3 linked regions of the Homo sapiens genome follow. The protein of the gene in region 2 interacts with the protein of the main gene of each other region in a biochemical or structural test. Each region holds a gene or a part of one and is shown on either strand. Other genes may lie near its edges. The genes, in order: TRPV1, AKAP5 and IQGAP1.

Region 1 (3,650 bases), on a different chromosome or scaffold from region 2:
CTCCAGCCTGGGCGACAGAACGAGACTCTATCTCAAAAAAAAAAAAAAAAAAAAAAGATGTGGACATGTGAAAAGAGCACAGGAGCCAGCTGGAAGGGACTCCAGTGACTAATCTCAGACAATTTGAGTATTAAAATAAAAGAGGATAGTAAGGATTATAACCCATTTAACAAAGTGAGAATCCATGAAAACAAAAGACTCCATGAGGCCATTCTGATACAAACAAATACATAGAAATGGGGAATGGTTAGCTCTTCTCTATAACAGAATGCCAGGTAATAAATGCAGAAGCAATGATGGAGTTAGAAGATCATCTTCTCTGGGTGTGGTGGCTCATGCCTGTAATCCCAGCACTTCGGGAGGCCAAGGCAGGCGGATCACCTGAGGTCAGGAGTTTGAGACCAGCCTGAGTAACATGGTAAAACCCCATCTGTACTAAAAATATAAAAATTAGCCGGGCGTGATGATGGGCAGCTGTGATCCCAGCTACCTGGAAGGCTGAGGCAGGAGAATTGCTTGAACCTGGGAGGCCGAGGTTGCAGTGAGCAGAGATGGCACCACTGCATGCCAGCCTGGGCGACAGACAGAGACTCCTTCTCAAGAAAAAAAAAAAAAATCATCATTTGGCCACCATCACAGGATGAAGTGATTCAGGTAAGACTCATCAACGGATGCTAGAACTCCTGGTGAAAGTCTGATGAGAAACAGGCTAGTCACATAGTTTCAAAGCATCTCCTTGAAAAGTATCCATCACAAAGGTAAATATAGTAGCTTTACAGTGGAAAAGTCTGGCAGATCCACCAAAACCAAGTCATCAAAGCTAACGTCACCAGAAGTGAGACGGACATCATGTGACTCCCAATAAAACACACAGCAGAAGACACACATGGCTTCTTGATATTCTGGCCAAAAATGCATGCCTGGCTATAATCGTGAGGAAACATCAGACACACCCAAATTGAGAAACATTGTCAAAACCACTGGCCTCTACTCATTACAAATTCTGAGGTCGCAAATGACAAGGAATGATGCAGGAAGTGCCCTGGATTAAAGAAGACTAAGGTCAGGCGCGGTGGCTCACCCTGTCATCCTAGCACTTTGGGAGCCGAGGCGGGCAGATCACTTGAGGTCAGGAGCTCAAGACCAACATGACAAAACCCCGTCTCTACTAAAAATACAAAAAAAAAAAATAGCCAGGTGTGGTGGCGGGCATCTGTAATCCCAGCTACTGGGGAGGCTGAGGCACAAGAATCACTTGAACCCTGGAAGTGGAGGTTGTAGTGAGCTGAGATGGCGCCACTGCACTCCAGCCTGGGCAACAGCATGAGACTCTGTCTCAAAAAATAATTAATGGCCAGGCACTGTGGCTCATGCCTGTAATCCCAGCACTTTGGGAGGCCAAGGTGGGTGGATCACCTCAGGTCAGGAGTTTGAGACCAGCCTGGCCAATATGGTAAAACCCCATCTCTATTAAAAATATAACAACTAGCCAGGTGCAGTGGCTCATGCCTGTAATCCCAGCACTTTGGGAGGCCGAGGCAGGCGGATCACGAGGTCAGGAGATCGAGACCATCCTGGCTAACATGGTGAAACCCCATCTCTACTAAAAATACAAAAAATTAGCCAGGCGTGGTAGCAGGCACTTGTAGTCCCAGGTACTCGGGAGGCTGAGGCAGGAGAATGGCGTGAACCCGGGAGGCGGAGCCTCCAGTGAGCCGAGATCGCGCCACTGCACGCCAGCCTGGGCAAGAGAGCTAGACTCTGTATGAGAAAAAAAAAAAAAAAATATATATATATATATATATATGCATAAAAACTAGCCGGGCATGGTCGTGGGCGCCTGTAATCCCAGCTACTTGGGAGGCTGAGGTAGGAGAATTGCTTGAACCCAGGAGGCAGAGGTTGCAGTGAGCCAAGGTCGTGCCACTGCACTCCAGCCTTGGCGACAGAGTGAGACTCCATCTCAAAAAAAAAAAAAAAAAAAAAAGTTGAAAAAACAACTGAGCCAAAATGCTATGTGGCAGCCACAGCACTTCCAGCCTGGAAAATTCTTAAAGCATTTTATATAACACGTGGCCAAGTCCTGGAGCTCATTTCAGTGTGTCCTCTGTCCACCCTCTCAGTCACCTGCAGACATGCACCTGCCTACCCAGTGCCTTCTCATTCAGCTCCTGGCAGAGTCTTCAGAAGGCTCAGCCAAGCAGGACCCCTGCCCTCCCCCAGCGCTGACCAAGCTCATTACCTGTGGAAAACCCGAACAAGAAGACGATGTAGACAAACATGAAACGGCACAGGTCTCTCAGGATCATCTGCAGGAGACAGCAGGCTCATCAGAGCCGAGGCCAGGCCCAGGAGGAGCTGAGGGAAGGGCCGGGCCGCATCGGCCTGGGGATGCGTCTTGAGAACGTGCAGGGCGGTTTGCTTTGCTGGTTCTCAGCTCAGGGGTCATGAGGGAGTCACCCACCCTTCCCCCATAGCCTTTGTTCTGGTCGGGAGATGGAGGCCTGGTGTGCAGGGGGGGTCAGGTTTCAGGGGACCCCCCTACACATACCTGGGTCAGGGCCAGATTGCTTGATTCTTGGAAAATAGGCTGGGGGGTAAACCAGCCCCTTCCCAGGCACGACAGAGAGGATGGGCGGAGTTCTTGGCCCCATCTCACATGACCACGAGGTAAGCGGGCTCTGAGGAGACCCACTGGGGCCCAGGGAACCCACCTTCTCTATCATGACGGCATAGATGCCCATCTGCTGGAAACCGCGGGTGTAGTAGAGCATGTTGGTCCAGCCCAAGGCCAGGGAGAATACCATGGAAGCCACATACTCCTTGAGGTGGCTGAAGTACAGCACCACGGTGGCCAGCATGAACAGTGACTGCAGAAAGCTGCGGGTGGAGGGGCAGAAAGCTCCGTCTACGGGAACCCAGGAGGCCTGGCACCCCCAGAACAAAAGGTCACAGGCCGCTCAGAGGTCCAGACTGCAGGCCGCAATAGGAGCTAGGGTTGGGCTGTCCTGACTCTTTCAGCCCAGGCGTTCTCCGTGGAAGCAGCATCGTCCCCAAGGAGCAGAAATTGGCTTGGTGAGGAGCTGTGCAAAATCTCACTCTTTATGTATAAAGCACAGATATAAATATAGTACCTAAAGGCCAGGCGCAGTAGCTCACGCCTTTAATCCCAGCTCTTTGGGAGGCTGAGGCATGCGGAGCACAAGGTCAGGAGTTCGAGGCCAGCCTGACCAACATGGTGAAGCCCCACCTCTACTAAAAATACAAAAAAAAATTTAGCCAGGCATGGTGGTGCACGCCTGTAATCCCAGCTACTCAGGAGGCTGAGGCAGGAGAATCACCTGAACCCGGGAGGCGGAGGTTACAGTGAGCCAAGATCATGCCACTGCACTCCAGCCTGGGAGACAGAGCGAGACTCCGTCTCAAATAAATAAATAAACAAATAAATAAACAAATAAATAAATAAATAAAAAGTACATAAAAGGATATATAGTGGCCAGGCGTGATGGCTCACACCTGTCATCCCAGAACTTTGGGAGGCAGATCACTTGAGGTCAGGAGTTCAAGACCAGCCTGGCCAACACAGTGAAACCCTGTCTCTACTAAAAATATGAAAATTACCTGGGCAAGGTGCACCCCTCTAATCCCAG
Region 2 (4,372 bases):
ACTAGGTAAAATTTCTTCCAGGCATATTCATACCTTTCATCTTACTCCATACAGTTGTTTTAGGTGGTTTCTCTAGTATAGAAATGCCCAGTTTCTCTATGGCTTGTAATTTCTCTCTTTAATTTCTTGATGAAAGCCCTTCTTTGGATAAATTTTTGCTTTATTTAAAGATCAACCTGATGAGAGAAAAGAAAGTGGTATTTTATTTCACTATGAGCCTATTATTTTCTGTGGAGACTATTTCAGTGAATGTATAAGATTCTACCAGGCATATTTTCCATATAATAACTTAATGAAATGACTGGAGAATAAACATTGGGGTTTACTTTGGCCCTATTAAAGAGTTCAGTGTGATTCTATTTTGTTTTATCCTCCTTGTTGAAACTTCATTTTGGATTACCCTGCAAGTCTGATATTATCAGTTCTTTAGTTGTGTTGTCTGTGTGAATTGCTTATGACTCTAAAGTGCAAGTTAAGCAAACAACAAGAACCAAAAATGAAGTGCAGGATGAAAAGCAAGCTGATGTAATCTTTATCACACTCAATAGATAATTTTAAAGCTGCAAAGGACTTTAGAGATTATTTGAGATTACTCAAATCCAGCCAGATGACAAAACTGAACTCCAGAGGGGAGCAGTTGTCTTGTCAAAAGCCATGCAACTAGATAAGGTCATAGCCAGAGTTAGAACTAGAGACTTTGACTCTCTAGTTTTACCATTATAACATAAGGTTTCTGTTCTAAAAATGTATGTTCCATCAAGGAAGTGCTATTTTTCATACATATTCTTAGGAAAATTTAGCATTACTGTCATTTCCCACTCTTAAATTAGTTGTACAATTTTGACATTTTCATTTAAGTACTGTATCTGCTGTATCACATGTTTCCACCATAATCTGCACATAGTTGGAAGTCAGTAAGAGTAGTAATAGCTGACATTTATTGAGCAATTCTTGGGTATTAGGCAGTGCATGCACTTTTACATACATCTCTAATCCTCACCACAATATTACAAAGATGGTGGTATCACCACGTACAGATGAAGCAATTTGGCTGAGATTACGGCAGAGCTGTAACAGAGCTCAGATTAACACAAGATTGCTTGTTGCTTAAAGCTTATGTTCTGAAACTGGGCTTTAAGAGTTTCGTCAGAAAATGAATTGTTTGGGGATACTAATCTGCAGTGTTTCATTAGTAAAAAAATTAAAAAATTGATTAATGGTCATTTAACCATAAGGCACTTATCAACTCATAATTGAACCACGAGTAGACTGAGTTCTTGTCATTTGAAAACCAAGCTTTTGAAATTCTTTATATTTTATTTTTTTGGTTCAGGAACTAATTTAAAAGCCAAAAATAAGTTGGCAAACTATGCAATTGGCAAACTTAGATAATATAAAGGTGTATTGAAAATTTAATCCTTAGAATGGTATGATGGCACCAAAGAATGGAAATGGGAGGTGATTATCCAACAAAGATCCTATGAATTTTAGTGGGTGGATGCCCTAAAATAAGCAAAGGGACTCATTCTTTATATTGTTTTTATGTAAATCCTTCACTGAAGTTTCATTTGGGTAACCCATAATTTTATGAACTGTAGAAGGAACTGGAACCCTGAAAATCAGTTTATGATCTAAGTAAATATTATCTTAGGTTGGGTGTTTCATACTGTGTGCCTCTAACAGAAAGATAAAGTCATTCTAGAACAATGACGGAACTAAAATATGAACATTTGACAGTGTTTCTCCTCACAATGTTTCAGTGAGCACTAGAACCTAAGCTGATAACTGTTTAAATCTTCTCACCTCTTGTGAGTTTTCAGCACCTGAGCATTTTTGTTAAGCAGAGGCTGTATTACCACATAATAGAAATATTGAAATGAGATGTTTAGGAGTCTGTCATTGGAAACTAACCTGGATTGCGCAAAGACAATCGTTTGAGAAGCTCACTTGAATGTATCTCACATACTAGAAATAAAACGAATACCCAAACAGAAACTTAACTAACGAGGGAAAATAATGCAGTCTGTAGACAATAAAACTTTGCAGAATGTCAGACTGCAAATGATTCGCTCTTAACCAGCAAGGGTAGCTTTATCGCCTCAGGAAATCTTAAAGTCCCTGTGCTCATTTCCTGATGGAATTGCAAGTCTCATGTCACAGAAAACACCCCCTTTCCTTTTTCCCTTGAGCAGCCAGTACCCGAGGAAAGCAATGCATCTTTCCCAGCACCAGATACGGACCACGAAGCTTCCTCCTGGAGGAAGGAATCTCGAATTCTGGCTTGACGCCCCTTATGGCAGGAGACAGAGCGCAGGATAAAGTACTCAAAAAGGAAAATGCCGGGGGCGTGGAACAGATAACCCAGCTTCAGGCTGTCTGCAGAATTATAATGTAATGGCCAGAAACCCAAAATCACATTTCTCAAAGAGGGATAAAGAAGGAAAAAAGCCACCGGCAACCCATGCTTCTAAGACAAGCTGTAACGCGAAGGGGATAGGTGGGCAGACCTGATGAGGGTCGCCCTGGCCGCGGATTCCAGCGGACAAGCGACCTCCCGCGTTCTTACTCCCAGCACCTCAGAGGGCTCGGATACCCCGTATCCAGTGGGCACCTCTTGCCCACTCCGCGGTCCGCGGACCGGACATTGCCCCCGACCCTCCTCCCCCGCAGGCTCCCCGCCCTGCCTTTACTTACGTAGGGCGTCGGGGTCCTTGGCCAACACTGCTCCCGAGGTGGCGGCGCGCTCGCGGGGCCCGCCGCCCAGGCCTCCAGGGAGCCGCGGTCGCACCCGGAGCAAGGCGCCCTCTGCAGAGCCCGCCGCCGGGTGCGCCCCCTCCCCACCGCGCGGGGACAGACAGCAGGCAGCGCCAATGCGAGCGGAGCGGAGCGGGCGGGCAGGGGCGGGGCGACCGCCGGAGGCGCGGGGCGGCGCGGGCGCCGGGACCCACCTGCAGCAGCAGCCTGCCTGCCTGCCGCGGGGAAGCCCATCGTGCTCCGCCCGGGCGCCAATCTCCACTGCCAGACCACATCAGCGCCGAGGCGGGGACCGCAAGAGAGCCAGCCGGAAGGTTCGGGGGGCGGGGGAAGGCGGGGGGGACCAGGGCAATGAACCCCGCGTTTTCTGAGACGCTAAATAGTGAGGTCCGGTTTCAAATTATAGACAGTCGCATTACACATCTCCTCTCCTCCCCCTCAGAATATTTAAAGACAAGGCAGACATCGCATTTTAAAAGCAGGATTCAAAACTGTGCATAGAATAGCGAGGTCATGTTTGTTTGAAGCGAAAATTACATATATAAATGGAAACAGAAAGAAACCCGACTTTCTCAGGAGTGGCTTGAGTGTCAGATCATCGTGGTTCATCGCCAAACAGGCTTTCAAACCTTTGTCTCCCAGTGGGAAGCAGGTGGAGGTGATTGGTGCAGAACTTTGGCCTGCAGGAGCAGCTGCATCTCTATGCGGACAAGGTGAGAAAGGCACAGGAACCCAGCTCCATCCATCTTATACCTTACATAGTTCCAAAAATAAGTTGAGGTAGCTTACAAGTTACCCATGATTCCCTTCAGGACATTCCCTATGAGGGCATTCCTGGGAGCTCCAGCTGTAAAATCTAGTAGGATCCATCACAATCCCAGCCTCCTCCTCTGGCCCCCATAGCATAGCATCCAGATGAAGAACCTGGTAAGGTGAAGTGAAGAACTACTGAAAAGCAGCCGCGTTCATCTCCTTTCTTCAACAGGATCACGACCTTAGGGAGTGTAAATGTCAGGTGTCCATTTTTGTATTTTTTCCGGAAATGTTTTATATTTGTAAGATTCTGTAGTTTCCACAGAGGCTTATCAAGGAAAGAACTCTTGAGACACAAAAGCAAAGCCAAATATAAGCTGTCAAGATCTTAAAATTACAGATAAAAGAGGCAAGAGTTGTAAAACAGGAAAATCCATAAGCATCTAGTTTAGTTGTAATTAAGAATTCAGGGATGGGCGCAGTAGCTCACACCTGTAATCCCAGCACTTTGGGAGGCCAAGGCAGGAGGATGGCTTGAGTCCAAGAGTTTGAGACCAGCCTGGGCAACATAGGGAGACAAAAAAATCTAAAAAATTAGCTGGGCATGGTGGTGCACGTATGGTCCCAGTTACTCAGGAGCTCAGGAGGCTGAGAAGGGAGGATCACTTGGGCCCAGAAGGTCAAGGCTGCTGTGAGCCACTACTGCACCACTGCACGCCAGCCTGGGCAACAAAGTGAGACCCTGCCTCAAAAAAAAAAAAAAATTCAGTCAGCCTTGTTCACTCAGCAAACACGTCTATCGAAATGGTCTGCGTATCTCTCTATGGGTTGCTAGCGCTGCTTGTTGCCAGTTTTGAACTTTAAG
Region 3 (3,650 bases), on a different chromosome or scaffold from region 2:
TCATTTGAGGTCAAGAGTTTGAGACCAGCCTGGCCAACATCGTGAAATCCTGTCTCTACTAAAAATACAAAAATTAGCCAGGTGTGGTGGTTCACACCTGTAGTCCAGCTACTCGGGAGGCTGAGGCAGGAGAATCGCTTGAACCCAGGAGGCGGAGGTTGCAGTGAGCCAAGATCACGCCACTGCAGTCCAGCCTGAGTGAGAGTGAGACTCTGTCTCAAATTAAAAAAAAAAAAAAAAAAGAAACAAGGGTCTTAGATATGACATGACTCATCCAACCCTACAAAATGCCAGGACCCAACCATCTGCCCACCCCACTGGACCTTATCACACACCTATATGACTCAACTACATCTGCTCTAATAGCACTGCTGAATTAATTAACTTTTATTAAATGGTCTTCAACCTTACAGAGGCTCTTTATTCCTTATCTCTGCAGTGACAAATTCCCATCTAGTTTGTGAGTTCTAAATAATTTGGTCTCATGTTTTATTTCTCACTACTCACCTCCACCCACAGCTCCATTCTAGACATGTAGTCTAGTCGCATCATGCTCTTCCCTCCTTTGTACCTTTGTTCACATCGCTCTCCTGCCTCGAATGCCCTCTCTTGTCTTACATGCACACCCAAATCCTTTCCACCTTTATACATCTGGCTCCGGTTCCACTTCTTTTAGGAAGCTTCCTAATGCACTGCTTCACTGGCCTCTTTCCTGAAACTTCTCTTATTTTTCAGTCAGTAACATAGTTAATTTTGAAACAGTTCATCACTGTTTCAGGTATATATGTCACATTTCCCCAACAAGACCATGGGTTCACTGAGTTTAGGAGCCACATTCTGTACTTTTCTTCTATCTACCAAGGCATGTAACAGAATTCAAAATATATAATATTCAATAAATTGCAGTGAACCCTACACATTCATGGTTTCAACCAACCCTGAAACTGTTTGAAAAAAAAATACAACAATACAAAATAATACAAATTTTAAAAATACAGTAACAACTATTTACACAGCATTTATATTGTAGTAGGTATTATAAGTAGTCTAGAGATGATTTAAAGTATATGGGAGAACGTAAGTATATGCAAATACTACAACATTTTATTTATTTATTTATTTATTTATTTATTTATTATTATTTTTTGAGACGGAGTCTCGCTCTGTCGCCCAGGCTGGAGTGCAGTGGTGCGATCTTGGCTCAATGCAGGCTCCGCCTCCTGGGTACATGCCATTCTCCTGCCTCAGCCTCCCAAGTAGCTGGGACTACAGGCATCTACCACCTAGCCTGGCTAATTTTTTGTATTTTTAGTAGAGACGGGGTTTCACGTGTTAGCCAGGATGGTCACAATCTCCTGACCTCGTGAACTACCCACCTCAGCCTCCCAAAGTGCTGGGATTACAGGCATGAGCCACCATGCCCGGCCAAATACTACACCATTTTATATAAGGGACTTCAACATCTATGGATTTTGGTATTGGCCGGGGGTGGGGAGAATGGGTGCTGGAAAGAATCGCCTGTGGATACCAAGGGATGGATATACGGGATGGGCACAATGATTCTGCATGCAAGTGCCAGTGAGCTTCCTGTCCAAAGGACATCACCTGGACTCAGGAAGCAAAAACTTTCTCAGACGAGCCATAACTACCACTGTCCCCCAGTTACATTCATGCTCACCCCTAGGCTACCAACTGTTATTTGTGTCTCCCCTCCTTTCTCTGACATGCGCCTATCGGGAGAGCTTATCTACCAAACAAAGGAGTATGTTAGACCCTAAATTTTACCTGTTCACTGGTGGCTGGTGTTTCTAGGATTTCAGTCAAGGTCTCTCCTGGCTGGAACCGGATGACATCCACAATTAAACGTTTTGTACTGAAACGAGATGGGGGAGGCATTTAAATATTACCAGTGTTCTAGTTCCTCTCAAGTGGACCGAAGCAGCAGCAGCAGCAGCAGCACAAACAGTACCTCACAGAAGTCCCAAGCGGCAGCTGCCAGTACACAGTACTCAAGGCACAAGGCTTATTTACCCAGCCATTCCATAAGTAGGTACGAGGGTTAGGATTTCCAAGATTTACATTTCACTGTAGCATATTAGCAAAATAAGGCAGATAAGTCCTGTACCAAGTACAATATGCGAGGTGATTGGTGACTGGGATTATGACAAGTACGAGAGGTCAGGATGGTCATTTCAGGTAGGACCCAGCAGGTTCCTCTCCAAAGGCCAAGAAACCTTCAGATTACATTCATTTCATTCTTCCTTCTTTTGATACTCACTTCAGTAAGATGGTTCGAGCATCCATTTCTGCATTCTCATCTCCAGGCACGTCGAACTTGTTGGTCAGGGTGAGAGACACTTCCGTCTTAGCCAGTGCCTCCTTATTTGGGTCATTTAAATTGCCAGAGCTTTCCCCTGAAGTTTTGGGAGGGTGGAAAGAGTCAGCGTAATAAAGAGAGGAGATATTGGGGGGAAATAATACAAATATAAGATGATGCAAGTCTAAGATAATACTTGAATCACCTAACACATACAGTGTGACGAGAACAACTTTTACTGAGAAATAAAATGTTATGCCAAATGATAAAGGCAAGGGATCCATAATAACTCCATAAATGTTTGAGAAATCATTTCAACACTACAATATCACAATTCTCTCTGAAAACATTCTTTCTGGCTGGGTGCAGTGGCTCAGTCCTGCAATCCCAGCACTTTGGAAGGCTAAAGGAGGAGGATGGCTTGAGGCCAGGAGTTCGAGACCAGCCTGGGCAACATAGTGAGACTCCATCTCTATTAAAAAAAAAAAAAACAACTCAGGAGGATCACTTGAGCCTAGGAATTTGAGGCTGCAGTGAGCTATGACTGCACCACTGTACTTCAGCCTGGGCAACAGAGGGAGACCCTGTCTCATAACAAACAAACAAAAAAATTCTTTCCTTTAGAGGACTTTTAATTTATGTATCTGCAATTTTTTTAAAAAAACACAAGCTGGCAGTATGTATCTGCGTTTAAAATGATCTTTTCCTCTGACTCCAGTTCCTTATAGATATTGATCACATCTGGGCTTTTGTTGTTGTTGTTGTTTTCTCTCTTATGAAACTATCAGGATCACATCTATTTTATTTCTCAATGTATATCCAGAGTTTGGTATAGTGCAAAAAATAGAGGAGGTGACAATTACAACACTTTTCTGTCACATTCCCTTTTGATCTTCCAGGCAAAAGTTAGAACTCTACCTATCAGGGACTCGATGGTGGGCACCTCGCCGAGGTCGTCCAGCAGTTCGTGGATTGGATCATTGTGCTCCGGAGCAATGGCATCCTGGTGATCCAACAGGAGCTGCAAACACCAATGATCAACTCCATTTATACATTCAACTCTTCAGCCCGTCCCTCCCTAGAATGTCTAACAATGATCTGCACAAAGAGGTTCCAACAAAGTTCCTATATTCAAAGAAACAACAAGCAAATCCTCAGCAAACTAACCCAAATAAACAATATGATATATAAGGCACCACACCAGGCTCTGTTGAATGACTTATGTTATGATATAAGAAGAGGAAATACTGGTATTCTCTTAACCTCATGGCCATAAAGGATTCAAATGTGCCCTGTTTGAGAAAGAACACTGGCTGGGTGCAGTGGCTCACGT

The links.
Region 1: the proteins of AKAP5 (region 2) and TRPV1 form a complex in vitro, tested with the Homo sapiens proteins (one study listed by BioGRID).
Region 3: the proteins of AKAP5 (region 2) and IQGAP1 form a complex in vitro, tested with the Homo sapiens proteins (one study listed by BioGRID).

Annotation. Positions count from the first base shown.
Region 1 is NC_000017.11:3,574,884-3,578,533, forward strand, and holds part of TRPV1 (transient receptor potential cation channel subfamily V member 1), read right to left. Parts: intron 2,881-3,650; coding exon 2,715-2,880; intron 2,310-2,714; coding exon 2,243-2,309; intron 1-2,242.
Region 2 is NC_000014.9:64,463,936-64,468,307, reverse strand, and holds the start of AKAP5 (A-kinase anchor protein 5), read right to left. Parts: upstream 2,810-4,372; 5' UTR 2,695-2,809; intron 177-2,694; 5' UTR 1-176. UniProt on the Homo sapiens protein: Multivalent scaffold protein that anchors the cAMP-dependent protein kinase/PKA to cytoskeletal and/or organelle-associated proteins, targeting the signal carried by cAMP to specific intracellular effectors.
Region 3 is NC_000015.10:90,485,718-90,489,367, reverse strand, and holds part of IQGAP1 (ras GTPase-activating-like protein IQGAP1), read right to left. Parts: intron 3,339-3,650; coding exon 3,236-3,338; intron 2,415-3,235; coding exon 2,279-2,414; intron 1,874-2,278; coding exon 1,786-1,873; intron 1-1,785. UniProt on the Homo sapiens protein: Plays a crucial role in regulating the dynamics and assembly of the actin cytoskeleton.